Linked DNA regions of Homo sapiens. The protein of the gene in region 1 purifies or fractionates together with the protein of each later gene. This does not show direct contact. Each region holds a gene or a part of one and is shown in the gene's direction. Other genes may lie near its edges.

The links. The genes of interacting proteins can lie anywhere in the genome.
Region 2: the proteins of SPSB4 (region 1) and ARHGEF10 purify together in Homo sapiens (co-immunoprecipitation; 2 studies listed by BioGRID and IntAct, with this or other methods). This does not show direct contact.
Region 3: the proteins of SPSB4 (region 1) and AMBRA1 purify together in Homo sapiens (co-immunoprecipitation; 2 studies listed by BioGRID and IntAct, with this or other methods). This does not show direct contact.
Region 4: the proteins of SPSB4 (region 1) and PCDH7 purify together in Homo sapiens (co-immunoprecipitation; 2 studies listed by BioGRID and IntAct, with this or other methods). This does not show direct contact.

What each region holds. Positions count from the first base shown.
Region 1 is NC_000003.12:141,061,114-141,064,924, forward strand, and holds part of SPSB4 (SPRY domain-containing SOCS box protein 4), read left to right. Parts: intron 1-3,811. UniProt on the Homo sapiens protein: Substrate recognition component of a SCF-like ECS (Elongin BC-CUL2/5-SOCS-box protein) E3 ubiquitin-protein ligase complex which mediates the ubiquitination and subsequent proteasomal degradation of target proteins.
Region 2 is NC_000008.11:1,826,921-1,830,731, forward strand, and holds part of ARHGEF10 (rho guanine nucleotide exchange factor 10), read left to right. Parts: intron 1-3,811. UniProt on the Homo sapiens protein: May play a role in developmental myelination of peripheral nerves.
Region 3 is NC_000011.10:46,587,218-46,591,028, reverse strand, and holds part of AMBRA1 (activating molecule in BECN1-regulated autophagy protein 1), read left to right. Parts: intron 1-3,584; exon of another isoform or gene 3,585-3,774; intron 3,775-3,811. UniProt on the Homo sapiens protein: Substrate-recognition component of a DCX (DDB1-CUL4-X-box) E3 ubiquitin-protein ligase complex involved in cell cycle control and autophagy.
Region 4 is NC_000004.12:30,726,864-30,730,674, forward strand, and holds part of PCDH7 (protocadherin-7 isoform d precursor), read left to right. Parts: intron 1-3,811.

The sequences.
Region 1 (3,811 bases):
TATATGGTTTATGTTTTATGTGTTTTTAAAAATTTAGTTACTTATGCATTTAAAGTATATTTAGTGATATGTGAAAATGCAAATTACATAATTTTTAGGTGAAATAATCTAAATAAAGGCCCATTATACCAATTTTTAAAAAGAAAATTCATTATAATTTATAGACCAAAAAAAAAGAGAGAATAAAGCAAAATTCCTCCAAAAGCTGACAATGTTTATATCTGGTTAATGAGATAGGAGAAAGAGGTGAATTCTAGTTTTTGTCCTTTTTTTGTATTCTCTAAAATTTAGACATTTATTTAACCTTTTCTAATTAATGAGCTTTATTTCTTCAGAATAGTTTTAGATTTAAAGAAAAACTAAACAGATAGTACAGAGAGGTCCCATATGCTCACTCCATTTATCACCCTAGTTTCCCCAATTATTAGCATCTTACATTAGTATGGCACATTTATCACAACTAATGAACCAGTATTGATACATTATTATTAACTTATTTTAATAATTAATATTAATAATTGTTATTAACATATTTTTTCAGATTTCCTTTTTTTCTCAGATTTCAGTTTTTACCTAATATCCTTTTTCTTCTCTTTCTTTCTTTTTCTTTCCTTTTCTTTCTTTCTTTTTTTTTTTTTTTGAGATGGAGTCTCCCTCTGTCACCCAAGCTGGAGTGCAGTGGCACGATCTTGGCTTACTGCAACCTCCACCTCCTGGGTTAAAGCAGTCCTCCCACCTCAGCCTCCAAAGTAGCTGGGACTACAGGCGTGTGCCGCCACACCTGGCTAATTTTATTTTTTTAGTAGAGACAGCATTTCACCATGTTGGCCAGGCTAGTCTTGAACTCTTGACCTCAAATGATCCACCTGCCTTGGCCTCCCAAAGTTCTGGGATTACAGGTGTGAGCCACCAAGCCCAGCCCCTAATATCCTTTTTCTGTTCCAGATCCCATCCAGGATACCACATTATGTGGAATTGTTAGGTCTCCTTAGGGCCCTCTTCACTATGATGGTTTCTCAGACTTTGGTTCCGATGACCTTGCCGGTTAGGTCAGGTATTTTGTGGGATGGCCTCCAGATGGAATTTGTCCTTTGTTTTTCTCATGATTAGAGTGAGGTTATGGGTTTTGGGGAAGACACCCAAAGGAAGATTTCATTATATCATATCAAGGGTACACACTATCAACATGATAGATTAATATAATAGTAATATAATAATATAACATAATATAATATGATACATTACATGATTAGCTTTAATAGTTTATATGTTTTATTGATTTTGTTTTGTTTTTGTGGTAGTTTTTCCCAAAGAACCATCTCTTTAGTTTTTGCTTAGTTCTATTATTTCCCTATTTTATTATGCTCCATTCATTTTTTAAAATTTAATAGCATAAATATATCAGCCATGATTTCCTCTGAGAACTGCTGTAGAGGCACCCCGCAGGTTCTAGTATGTGGAATGCTTTTTGTTATTGTTGTATTCCAGATATTCTGCAATTTCTATATGGATTTCTTTTTTGATCTGAGTTGGGGTCAAGTTGTTTAAAGAATTTTTTAAAATGCCTAAGTGATAGGATTTTGTGATCTATAATTTTGTGATTAATTTCTAGTTTTCCTTCTGTGTTATCAGATACTGTATTATTTTTGCTTTTTTTGAAGTTTTGTTTGTGACCTAATATACAGGAAAATTTTTTTGATCATTCCATGAACACTTGAAAAGAACATGCATTCTTTGTTTTCAAGGTATAGAATTTGATGAACACATTAGTTAGATCTGTCTTATTAATTATGTAATTTGGTTTTTCTATGTCTTTACTTAATTTTGGTCCACTGGTCCATCATGAGCTAGAAGAGGGAAATTAAAATTACATGCCTCTGATGTGTGTCTGTCTAAGGCCCCTCCTTATATTTCCTCTAGCTTTTGCTCTGAATTTTGGTGCTATTTGGTGAGTTCGGTCTTCAATTGTGGATCGCATTCTTTATTATTATTAAGTATTCTTGTCTCACTTAAAACCTTTTGTCCTGAAATCAACTTTACTTGCCTAATATTAAGATTACAGTGCCTGCTTAGTTTGAGTTCACACTTCCCTGTTATGTGTTTGCCCTTCCTTTATTTTCAAAATTGTTAAATCACTTTGCTTTGGGGAATGTCTCTTATATGTAGCATATGGTTGGGGGTTTTGTGTTTTTCCCCAGTCTTATAATCTTTTTTTAGCAGTTTACTATGGCCATTTAATGACATGGTCAATATTTCGGTCTTAGTTTTACTATCATATTTCATGCTTTTATGCCTTTTTGCCTCTCTTGCTTTCTAACAAAATCTTTCAGTATATGATCTGTTTTATTTTGTATTATGTTCAAGGTTTGTATCTGCAAGATGTGTATTTTTATTTTTAGTTCTGGAGGTTACCTTTATAACTAGCCAAAATGGATTTAATCTTTTGTTGAGACCATGCTAGGTGTCTCCCTTCTGAAATAATCAATCACAAAATTAGTTTACAAATTTGGTTCCCATTTTTATCTGCTTTGTGGCAGCTTTTTTCAGGTGAGTTTGCTTGGTTTGCCATGTTTTGTCCTGTTCGTTTATTCCTTTCTTTCTTCTATAGCATCTTTGACTATATCCTGTGCTGGTTCCTCTTTGAAAGAGGTAAACCTTCTTGGATCAGCATTTTGCAGGAGACACATGTGGAGGAGGTACCAAGAAGAGGGCAGGATTGCTCCCTGGTTCCCAGGAACTTTGTTCACAGGGTTGTTGTAGTGACTTCCTTTAGTCTTTGCTTCTACTCTGTCAGCAGAGTTCTGCAGCTGTGGGCTTCTCCCAATTCAGAGCCCTCCTCTCACTCTGCCTTGCCAACACACTGCTTCCTGTGAAGATGGCGGGTCTGTGGTTTCCTCTGTTGGCCCTGCCCTCCTCTTCCCCCAGGGTGTAGGAGGCAGCTCCCACTACCAGACCACATGCCCTGTTCCCATTTTTTCTGATAAGGGATCATTAGTTTTTTCCTTCAGGGAATGCCAGCTCCTGGCTGGCTCTGCCAGCTTTGTCTGAGATCTGCCACCACAGGTGTCTTCTCTAGGTGTTTTCTCACAGTATTTTTGATCTTCACTGCTTTTGGTAGCCCTTACCTGTTTTGGGCAGCCTTTCCTTATAAGCTGTGTTTCAGGTTATAAATGTGTTCTAGTTTGCTGAAGAAGGAGTTTGCATTTCTTTTTTTCTCCTGGATTTTGGGTGATTTCGGATATGAAAAGGAGTAACTTTATTCTGCTATCTTAAAACTGCCTAGTGTTGCAAATTGTTATGTGTTCTGGTATTCCCTCAGATTGAACATTAGCCAGAGCTCTCGGAATAGGGTCAACATCTGCTGAAGCTGGGATCTGACAATAGAGAGGGAAGAGTATGAGAGTTAAGAATAAAATGGAATGGTGAAAAACCCACAGGATACTTGTCTGTGCTGTGTGGCAGCAGAGTTCTTTTCGTCCCTACCTGGACTTTGGCTAGGGGTGTACCACTGTCTGGGTGGGAGGTTGAGGCTGGGGAGGGCAGGGCATGAAAAACACCCATCCATCTCCTCATCTGGCTCAGGAGAAGTTGTTCTAGGCCCAGCAGCTCTCAGGCCAGGGAGGGGAGGGCACACGCCTCTGCTCTGGACAGGGCTTGGCTCTCCATCTCTCTCCATACCCAGGGCCCGTCCAAGTAGTCCGAGCTCCTTGGGTTCTGTCTGGTTTCCTAGTGATGGTGGCCAATTCCTTCTCCATGAAAACCAGGATCCTGTCTCAGGGAAGGCAGTCTGGGGTCAGTGCTGTTAATGGTA
Region 2 (3,811 bases), on another chromosome or scaffold:
CTCTCCCTTAACCAGGCTTTCTGGGAGTGTAATTTTGGAAGGTTCTGGGAGCTCTGCAGTGGAAAGGGGTGGGCCAGGCCCAGGGGCTGCCAAGGGTCTGAGAGGCAGGGAGAGCAGAGGCCGGTGACCAGCAGGGGTCCTTGCCTGGGTGGCAGACAGGGCCACAGCCCCAGGTCCGTCTAGGGAGGGGCAGGGTTACCTGTAAGGACAGGTGTGGCAAAGGGGCCCAGGGAGAATGCCCTGCCACCAGCCCCCACGCTGATACACACACACTTCTGCCACATCTGCCACCCTACTCTGCTTCAGCCTGTTCATAGTTGTCAGGTTTGGACATTGGTTTTGGTTCTGTTTGTTTGTTTTCTGTGAGTAGTTTTCCAAATTTTGATAAAAAAGTGATCTTTTTTTTTGAAATGGAGTATCACTCTGTTGCCCAGGCTGGAGTGCAGTGGAGAGATTCGGCTTGCTGCAGTCTTTGCTTCCCAGGTTCAAGCAATTCTCCTGCCTCTGCCTCCCAAGTAGCTGGGATTATAAGCACCCACCACCGTGCCCGGCTAATTTTTGTATTTTTAGTAGACGGGTTTTGCCATGTTGGCCAGGCTGGTCTTGAACTCCCGACCTCAAGTGATCCACCTGCCTCAGCCTCCCAAAGCGCTGGGATTACAGGCGTGAGCCACTGCATGCCCCGTCAAAATGATCATTTTAAATCGTGGATTTTTCCTTTCCTTCCATCATTGCCATTTCCTGCTTTTTGTTGTATCATTAGAGTAAAGCAGGCCTGCCAGTAGAAAGTGCTATATGGGGGTTGTTGGTATTTTATATTTTTGTTAAATGATGTGAAAAAGGTGTAAAATATTTTTAAAAATGTTTGGGTTCAAAGTTTTTCTCTTCCATGGGTCACTTCTGATAGGGGAAATAACTGTGTAAAGTAAAATATGGTATCCAGAGCTGTGACTGGTGCGGGGGCCCTTGTGAGGGAGCGATGGGGAAGCATGCAGGTTGTTAACAGGCACATGTAGAGATGCATGGCTGTCTGCGTAGAATAGGCCTGGCTGCATCAGCATTGGCTAGTTACCAATCTGGCCATTCTAGGTTCCAATATCTTAATGACCGTCAGTCCCTGGGGACTCACAGTGGGGGTTTAATGAAGAAAACAGAAGGAATGGTTGTGGTACCTCAACACTCTGCCTCCACTGATAGCTACAGACAGCCGAGGCCCTTTTCGGCACCAGGTGAGTCGGGGTGAGTCAGGCTCCTGCAAGTCGTAGGTGTTGCTTCCGTGCTGAGATCACGTTCTTTGTTTTGTTTTGTGCCCGTGGCTTGTTGTCCAGCTGTGGGGAACAGACCCTTACACTTGGATGTGGTCGTTATTATGTTGTGGAAGAGCAGTGCCTTCCTCTTAAAGTGCCTTCCTCCCTTAAAACCGTGGCATGCACACTTAACGGTTTTAAGGAATTACATTTTGATAAACCGTGGCATGCACACTTACTGTTTTAAGGAATTACATTTTGATAAACCGTGGCATGCACACTTACTGTTTTAAGGAATTACATTTTGATAAACCGTGGCATGCACACTTACGGTTTTAAGGAATTACATTTTGATAAACCGTGGCATGCACACTTACTGTTTTAAGGAATTACATTTTGATAAACTGTGGCATGCACACTTCCTGTTTTAAGGAATTACATTTTGATAAACCGTGGCATGCACACTTAACGGTTTTAAGGAATTACATTTTGATAAACCGTGGCATGCACACTTACTGTTTTAAGGAATTACATTTTGATAAACCGTGGCGTGCACACTTAACGGTTTTAAGGAATTACATTTTGATAAACCGTGGCATGCACACTTACTGTTTTAAGGAATTACATTTTGATAAACCGTGGCATGCACACTTACGGTTTTAAGGAATTACATTTTGATAAACTGTGGCATGCGCACTTACTGTTTTATTCTATCGTTTGCTTATTTTTTTTTTCTGAAAGGAAAATAAAGCAGTGATTTCAGTGCAGTGTCTGATTTTCTGTAAGGAACATGAGAAAAGTGAGTCCAAAGAGCATTACATAAGCTAGCGTGGTATTCAGTGCGTATCTGAGCGGACACGGACGGGGAGTCCTCGAGCTTTGGAGAGGAAGCAGGCGGCAGGGCCTCCAGCACACCTGGGGGGCGGCCAACCAGCCCGGCCAGGCCGAGCGCTCCCCGCCTGCACAGTTGCACTCATGTCGGGCCTGAGCTGAGTCGTCCCGACAGGATACCTGCGTGGGCCGTGTAGACACAACCCAGGGAGCTCCAGAGTTAATGACCCTCCTGGTTCAGAAGCTCCGTATGTTTTGTGTGAGAAGCGCTGAGCTGTGACGGAGGGAATGCGGTGGGTCTTCCTGATGGTGCGTGCAGTTCTGAGCCTGGCGGGGTCAGCGGCATGGAACCAGTGGGACGTGGTAAGGCCAGGCCTGTGGGCGGTTGCCCTGTGTGGGCCGGGCCAGCTTGAAGTCCGCTGAGGGCTGGAGCCAGCCCCTGACCCTGGCCAGCCTGCTTGCTGCAGGAGTGATAAGAAAGTCGACTCATGCTTTGTTCTCAAGCACTTGACTCAGCAGGCCCGTGGGAAGCAGCCCACACGAGAGGCCCTGACCCACGTCCAGCTGCCTCCACGGAAGCCGCGGCTTCGTGGCTTTCTGTCGTTTGTGTGGGCTCTGCATTCAGCCAGCAGAGGCACTTCTTGCAGAGCAGGGCTGAGGAGAATTCCTTTCTCTGGAAGCTGTGGTCCTGTGTTATGTAGAATAGGTCACTTTTCAGCTGCAGCTGGAGTCTAAACGAGCGTCATAGGTGCCCAGCGCTGCACGGCGGCGCAGCGCTGCATTCGTGGTCCCGAATCCGGGGTCTGCGGAGGAAGAACGCGCGGCGAGGCCCGGGGAGGCTGCTGGGACGGCGGCAGGCACCCTGCTCCTGGAATGGCGTTTAGACATGCAGGTTTCTCCATGATTTAATAGGAAGGAATGAAAGGTGCAGCGTTTTGCCAGCTGATGAAAATATCTGGGGAGCGAGTCATAGGTAGCGGTAGCAAGAAGGAGAGGGTTAGGTTCTCCAGTGTGCAGGCTCCGAAGTGCTCTCTGCCAGCCGTCAGAGGGCTGCAGTTTGGAGGCAGCTCCCGCTTGCTCTAAAGAGCCACTTCCCCGCTCCGTTCTGTCTGCAGACGGCCCCAGAGGGCAAGGACTCCTGGTGACAAGAGGAGTATCAGACGAAGGCAGGGGAGGGAGGCTGTGTGCGCGCACCTGTAATCCTGGGAGATTTCCACTGCAATCCGCAGGCATGCGTGGCAGGCGGCTCATTTCCCGTGGGGCTCAGGCGGCTCATTTCCCGTGGGGCCCAGGCGGCTGTCCTTGGTGGGCGCTTGACTCCTGGGCGTGGCTTCTGTCCAGCATCCAGGCTGCCAGGAGCCTCCGGGGGCCGTGCAAACACCTGCGAGCACCTTCTTGGTCCCTTGAGGCCTTTCTCTGTTGGCTTAGGTTTAGTGCCCTTTTGTGCTTATGTGTTTTTTGAATCAAGTTTTTATACTTGATTTAACTTCTATAAAAAGAAACAACCTTTGCACATGAAGAAAATCTACCTGTGGCCATATGACAAGCACCGGCAAATCTGGAAATGACCTATTAAGAGACAGGTGTTTCATGAATACCGCTGCGTGCTAAGTACTAAGTGCTCTCACGCCCCAAGGCAGGGTGTGAACCGCAGAGACCATGTGCTTGCCCTGGGGGGCTGGCACCCTTGTCTTCAGGAAAGATGATTTAAGAAGTAAAGTAATATGATGAAA
Region 3 (3,811 bases), on another chromosome or scaffold:
GGTGTTGATGGGAGGTTACAGGGATAGAGCTTATCAACTTAATCAACTTATCTCATGCTTTGTGATAGAAGTTCATTCAGCTTTTTTTCTTTTTGTTTTTCTTTTTTTTTTTTTTTGAGATGGAGTCTCACTCTGCCGCCCAGGCTTGAGTGCAGTGGCACGATCTCAGTTCACTGCAACCTCCACTTCCCGGATTGAAGCAATTCTCCTGCCTCAGCCCTCCTTGCGTAGCTGGGATTACAGGCGTGTGCCACCATGCCCGGCTAATTTTTTGTATTTTCACTCAGCTTTTAACTTACTTGGTTAAATCTTGTGGTGTTCTGTCAATGTTAGATTGGGTTCTCTGTTGACATTTCCTTTAAAAACTGGACGGGTTCAGAATGTGACTGAATTCTGTCTTTTAGTAAGAAAGTTCTTGGAGATGATTAAAGATTTGAACTTCTAGAACTTAAGCTGGAACAGAGTTATGTATATCACTTGAAAAAGATTAGTTTTGTATATCGTTAGAAAACAATTGATTATTTTTATTAATAAAGTAGTAATTTAATTTTTTTTTTTTCCTGAAGAGATGAGGTCTCCCTATGTTGCTCAGGCTGGACTCAAAACTCCTGGGCTCAAGTAGCCCTCCCCAATAGCTGGAACTACAGGTGCATGCACCTGGCTTACATTTTTTTAAATTAATTTTTTTTTTGAGATGGAGTCTTGCTCTGTCACCAGGCTGCAGGCAGTGGCGCAATCTTGGCTCACTGCAGCCTCTGCCTCCTGGGTTCAAGTGGACTACAGGTGCGCACCACCGCACCCAGCTAATTTTTTGTATTTTAGTAGAAATGGGGTTTCACCGTGTTGGCCAGGATGGTCTCTATCTCCTGACCTTGTGATCTGCCCACCTCGGCCTCCCAAAGTGCTGGGATTACAGGCATGAGCCACCTCGCTCGGCCATACATTTTTATACTGTATAATTTTCACAATATTTTCAATATGTGTTAGGAAACTTATAAAACTTTTGTTTTGATCATGTAGCTTTATGGTGCTTATTAATATCAAATCCAAACATTTTGGTCCTCAAGCATATTGGTGAATGTTGTCTGTTTAAGTTGACAATTTTTAGACCGGGCGCGGTGGCTCACACCTGTAATCCCAGCACTTTGGGAGGCGAAGGTGGGTGGATCATGAGGTCAGGAGATTGAGACCATCCTGGCTAACACGGTGAAACCCCTTCTCTACTAAAAAATACAAAAAAAATTAGCGGGGAATGGTGGTGGGCGCCTGTAGTCCCAGTTACTTGGGAGACTGAGGCAGGAGAATGGCGTGAACCCGGTAGGCGGAGCTTGCAGTTAGCCGAGTTAGCACCACTGCACTCCAGCCTGGGCGACAGAGGGAGACTCTGTCTCAAAAAAAAAAAGTTGGCAATTTCTCTCACACTTCCAATTTATCTCACTCTTAAAGGAATAAGAGAAAATGTTTTGTTGTTAGCACAGAGAGGTGTCTTTTTCTAAGATATGCCTCAGCCTTGGTAGAGTTATTTTGGAGTGGAATCCGCATTTTTTTGCCCAGTGGTTTGGTTTACCCCAAAAAAACTTAGGTTCCTTTAATCACAGTCATTCTTGTTTCATTCTCCAATTGTTCCTCATAAACTCAGAGAGAGCTTTCAGTGTCTTAATTTCTGTTTGTATAGAAATGCTGTGGTACAGCCTGTCCTGTGGTTTGGGGTCATTTATATTTTATCTTTTCAGGCTCCCCCAAGTTAATGTGATCAATTTTTTTTTGCACAGCTAAAATTAGTTACTGATGGATAAAAATTTTATGATTAGTTATTGTCAGCATGTATTTATGTGTCCAGTAGTATGTGGCAGCCTGCCAATGTAATGTAAGGAGAAAATAGATTAAGTAATCAGGAGATCTGGGTTTAAGCCCTAGGTTTACTACCTGAGAAGTCTTGTACAAATTATTTAAGGAGGCTGTAGGGAAGGTTAATGTCCTTTATTGAGCATTTACTGTGTCATGTTCTTTACATGTGTTATTTCATTTATTACTTATAAGAGTCCTTTAGAGTAGATGTTAATTTCCCCATAGAGATACTATTTTTCCATTTTTTTGTTGAAGCCCAGTGACAGTAAATAATTTAACCAAGATCACACAGTAGGTATAGTAGAGCTGTGATTGAAATCAAAGGCTTTGAATGCTTTTCTGAGTCTGTATTTAAAGAATGGAAAAGTAAAACATCCATCATAATACTTTTTTTTTTTTTTTTTTGAGATGGAGTTTCGCTCTTGTTGCCCAATCTGGTGTGCAATGGCGCGATCTCGGCTCACTGCATCCTCCGCCTCCTGGGTTCAAGCGATTCTCCTGCCTCAGCCTCCCTGGTAGCTGGGACTACAGGCATGTGGCTGGCTAATTTTTGTACTTTTTTTTTTTAGTAGAGACGGGTTTTCACCATGTTGGTCAGGCTGGTCTCGAACTCCTGACTTCAGGTGATCCACCTGCCTTGGCCTCCCAAAGTGCTGGGAATACAGGTATGAGCCACCGTGCCCGGCCCATCATAATACTTAAGTTGATTACATTGAGAAAAAGTATGTGAAAATGCTTTAAAAGGATAAAGTACTCTTCAATTGTTAACTTCCATGCTATTTTACAACAACAATGAACAGATGTTATTTAAGTTCTTGGGCAACTTGCTACTTTCTGTTTATTTTTTTTGAGATGGAGTCTTGCTCTGTCATCCAGGCTGGAGTGCAGCTGCGCTATCTTGGCTCATTGCAACCTGCGCCTCCCAGGTTCAAGTGATTCCCCCTCCTCAGCTTCCTGAGTAGCTGGGATTACAGACACGTGCCACCAGGCCCAGCTAATTTTGTATTTTTAGTAGAGACCAGGTTTCACCATGTTGGCCAGGCTGGTCTTGAACCCCTGACCTCAAGTCATCTGCCCAACTTGGCCTGTCAAAGTTCTGTGATTACATGCATGAGCCACAGCACCCATCCTCCTTCTATTTCTTTTCTGACTTATTTTTTGTCTCTCCCTCTGCTCTTAGGGTTAATAATCTTCACTTCTCTACCTAAATTTTTTTCTTCATTGTGTGTTGTTTTGGTACCGTGTTTTTTTCTGAGGTCAGAAATATTCCCATCAGACGTTGTGGAGCTATTTCTTGATTGTGACTGTGTGTTTCAACCCTTACCTATGAAGATGTTTGTTCATCTAGCAAATATTTATTGAAGACTCATTAGATGTTGGGATACAAAGGTAGACATAGGTGTTCTTATGGTCTCCTTATGGAGTTTATTCCAGTGGGGAGTATAGGTATTTGATAAATATTGAAATTTAGACTGAAACAAGTATTCTGAAGGAAATAAACAAGGGCTGACAGAGGGAAGAAGGAGTGAGGCGAGCCCTGGGTATTTACAGGGATTAGAGTCTTCAGTCATAGCATCCTTAATCCCCTTGAAAAGTTGGAATCACGAATCATAATTGCGTAAATTTAAGTTTCCTTGCTGCCATCTAAGTCTTCAGTCTTCATTTAAGATTGATTGCTACATGTAATATGTGTCTGATATTTAATGTATGATAATACTGGGTTTTACATAGTCAAGGATAACTAGGACTTATAAATATCTAGCATGCTTGACTAATGAGTTTAATTTTTTACTTTTTTTTTGTGGCAGGGTCTCACTCTGTGGCCCAGGCTGGAGTGCAGTGGTGCAATCTTGGCTCACTGCAGCCTCCACCTCCCGGGTTCAAGCGATTCTCGTGCCTCAGCCTCCCGAGTAGCTGGGACTACAGGTGTGTGCCACCACGTCCGGCTAATTTTTGTATTTTG
Region 4 (3,811 bases), on another chromosome or scaffold:
CAAAGTTACATTCCGTTTTGACATCTGACATAAATGGGATCCTTTTTGTTCTGCTTTTTGTTTGTGCCATAAGTAGACAATTTCCTATTTTTATTTTTAAAATATATGACCTTTAATTTTTACAGAACTGCCAAAATATATTTTCTTTGATTAAACCTGATGTTATAAAAGAAAAAAAGAGAATTCAGGGTTTCGCGGGAATTTCCTTCTTTTGATAAATGGATTTATCTAAGGTAAAACTAGACTGTTGTATTCTTTCAATTCCATACAGCAGGGTCTAATTTAAAAATTGAGATTTCATTTTACATTCATTTTATTTATAGTTTTCCTGAATTGCCTTATTGCAGTTATTTATTTGTGAAAAAATTAAAGTGATGTTTCTTAAGAGTGTTCTTATCTTCATGAAAATTAGACATTTTAAAGTGTTGAACCTAAGTCCTGTTGTTTTCATTATAATAGGTTAAACAGCTTTGTAGAAATGAAAGTTTGTAAATAATACTCTCCCTTAACTGCTTACTTTTTGTTTTGTTTACATAGACTTGAGAGCCATTCAAATCAAGCTTCTATGGCAGACTCTAGGAAATGTGTGTGGTAGAGTTGCTGGAATTATTTCCGAAATTCACACTTTAGAAAAACTCACTGATGATGTAGCCCAAATTTTCATAGTTCATACCTTTGCATTTCAAACAAAAGCCTTTGCTCTCAGCTAAATAATGTGTTTAGCTGAGCAAAATGTGGATCATTGACAGCATGATTGAGATTAAGTATCCACCTTTCTGTTTCATTCTTCCTTGGTAAACCTGGTCTTGGTAGTTGTTAAACTTTTGTGAACTAGAAGTACAACTGTGTTTTTCATTCATAACATAAAGGCATACGCATTCTATTTTTCTGTTTATTTTTAAGTCTCTGGTATTTTACTATGTGCTAAGCATTTTTCAATTTTCTTTTAAAATAATGTAATCCCCCCAAAGAGTGATAGTATGAAAAGTACAGTTACTATTTTGCTTATTATTCTTGAATTCTATTGAGCTTATCCTTGATAGGCTGTTATTTAGATAATGCACTTACAAGTAAAAATTTTATTGTATTTAGTAAATGGAAAGTAAGGTAATTTATTTTTGGCAAGAGCTTAGTTTGAATAAACATCCATTTTAAAATCCACTTGCAGCTGATCCTGAAATACAAAAAATTTACATTAACTTCAGTGACAGTTTCAGTTTGTCTTCATAATGTTCTCTTTAGTGATCGAATTATGTTCAATATATTCATTGTATACCTAGTGAAAAAATTTGGGAGAATTTTTTAATTGCTTCAATTTTGGAAGCAAATGGTTGACTTGCTGTCATCTATTAAGCAATAAGAAAACTAAATGTCAATTCATTTGTGTGTGTGTGTGTGTGTATACATACATATGTATATATATATATATATATAGAGAGAGAGAGAGAGAGAGAGAGAGCATATATATATATTCTTTAGTGGAAATGCATCTACATAGTGATGCCAACCATAGCTTCCAGTGCTCATTCTGTAAGCATAATTTTTACAATGTTTTTCTCCTGTCTATAACCAAGGATGTTTTCATAAGGCACAATGAATCTGCATATGTTGTAATTTCCGTTACATTTGGCCTGATACCATAGGCAAAACACTAATAGCTGATGGAAGTTAGGCTGTGTCTTTAGTCATCTAGTAAAGCAACACTATCTGGATCTCTGGATGTCTATGAAATAAGGAAAAGGTCATCCATTGATTTGATCCGCAATGAATTTGCAAATTTATATGGAAGTCCACATGATTATTTGAATCTTATCCAAAACTTATCCTAAACCAATTAATGACTTAGATGTAAGACCACAAAGTCAGTTTAAATATTTTAATGAGCCATCTAGTACAATAAATATGGCAAAATCATTTTTTCTTATCCTTCTATCTTTGAGTAATTACATATCTCGTATGTGAAAAAGTGTGAACATGGTTTATATCACAAACTCTGTACACACAGAGACATATACACACATATTAGTGTATACCATTTATAGCTGTATTAGTCTTTTATTTAGTCATGATGTTTATAGATTAATATGTGAAAAATATCTAAGCTTAAACATACACAATGTTGAAATAAAATATACTATAATCAACAGCTTAATGACTGTACATGAAATCACTAGCATCATCACATTTTAGAATTACAAGGTGTCAAACAGTCCCCTCATTTTAATAGAAGAGGAGACTGAGGCCCAGCATGAAACAGTGACTTGATTGGGATTACAAAATTGTCAGGGATATAATGTGGACTAGAGTCCAAGTTATGGAATGTAGTGTCCAGTATTCTTATTTATCTGATCATACTACCTTTGGGGGAAAAAAACTGAATTTCTGTAACTTTCTGTGTGTGTATTTCAATTGCAGTAGAAATCTGTTGAAATTTACTTACTTATTTATGACTATATATTTGGCTATGAAGATTGACATCTTTACAATAGACTATAATTCTGCTTTAGGCTCCAGTTCTTCTGTGTAAAATTATCTGGGAAAATATAATTCAAAATTTACAGAATTTTAAAGAAGTTAATAATTCTTTTCCCTCATGTAGGATTGTAATTGATAACATAGAGTAAAGCATCTTAACATGGTTAAGAACATATATTCTGTTGACAGAATTTTTAATATTAGCAGAACAATGATAACAGACATAAGTTCCTTCCTAGCAATTAGTATATTTCAATAAAAATTCATTTAAATAGAAAAGAATTAAAACATTCTACACATTATGTATGAAACTTTTTATGCATTCTAATTGTGATAATCTTTTACCTTTTTCATCAATATTGATAATTACTTTTGACTTCTGGGCTTGTGTGCATTTTATCAACTTTGCACATACATTTTATTTTAGTAGCATCCTTAACACACAGTCATGCACGAATGTTTTCTCTTAATTTGTTTTCTAGCAAGTTTTTAGAAGAATATGACATTTTGTTAACTTTCAATTGGATTGCTTCCTTGTTAGGCAGTTAACCAATCTAGTGTACTAGATTCTAAATTTGCACAGTGATAAAATATAAATTATTGAATCTATTAATTTTAAAAATAAAATCTGAACTATTTTAAAAACTAAATATAGTGTGACAAAGCCATTACTTCAACACAGCAATCTACTCTATTAAACATTTTAACATCTTTTCTTTCCTGGGAGGATGTGGTGGTGGAGATTATGTAGGAGATTTAGTATAATTATATACAGTATTTTAAATATATATATAACTTTAAATATATAACATGACTTTGTTTAGAATAGTCATGTATAAAGAGTGTATAATCGATTTCTAGACTATGGCAAGGTTTCCCATTCATTTATTTACTATGACTCTATAGAAATAGTAAGAGCTGTTCCCATATATCTAGAGTAAGCTTTGCTTTTCTTAGTTTTTTTAAAAAAACCCATAGAATCTTTTCTAAAGCAGTGACTCTTTTGCGGTACATTACACTGTGCTTTATTTAGCATTAGTGTTGTGGGAAAAATCACATTCTAAGAAGAATTGAGCTGAAACCACTAAAACTAATCTTAATTATCACTTCTGGTGAATTAATGTTTTAAAGGCGGAATCAAGGTTTATTTTCAGGAATGTAGTGATGTTTGTATTGAACTCTAATGCTGTGTACAAACAAAAAGCTATTAAAGCTCCCAGGTAGGATTCCTCTGACAAGTTAACTTCCCCCACCCCCCAAGTGTATTTATTATTTACAAACACAAAGTTGGCATTAAAATTTTTCTTAGCTCCGAAATCTCTACTAAAGCTTTCCA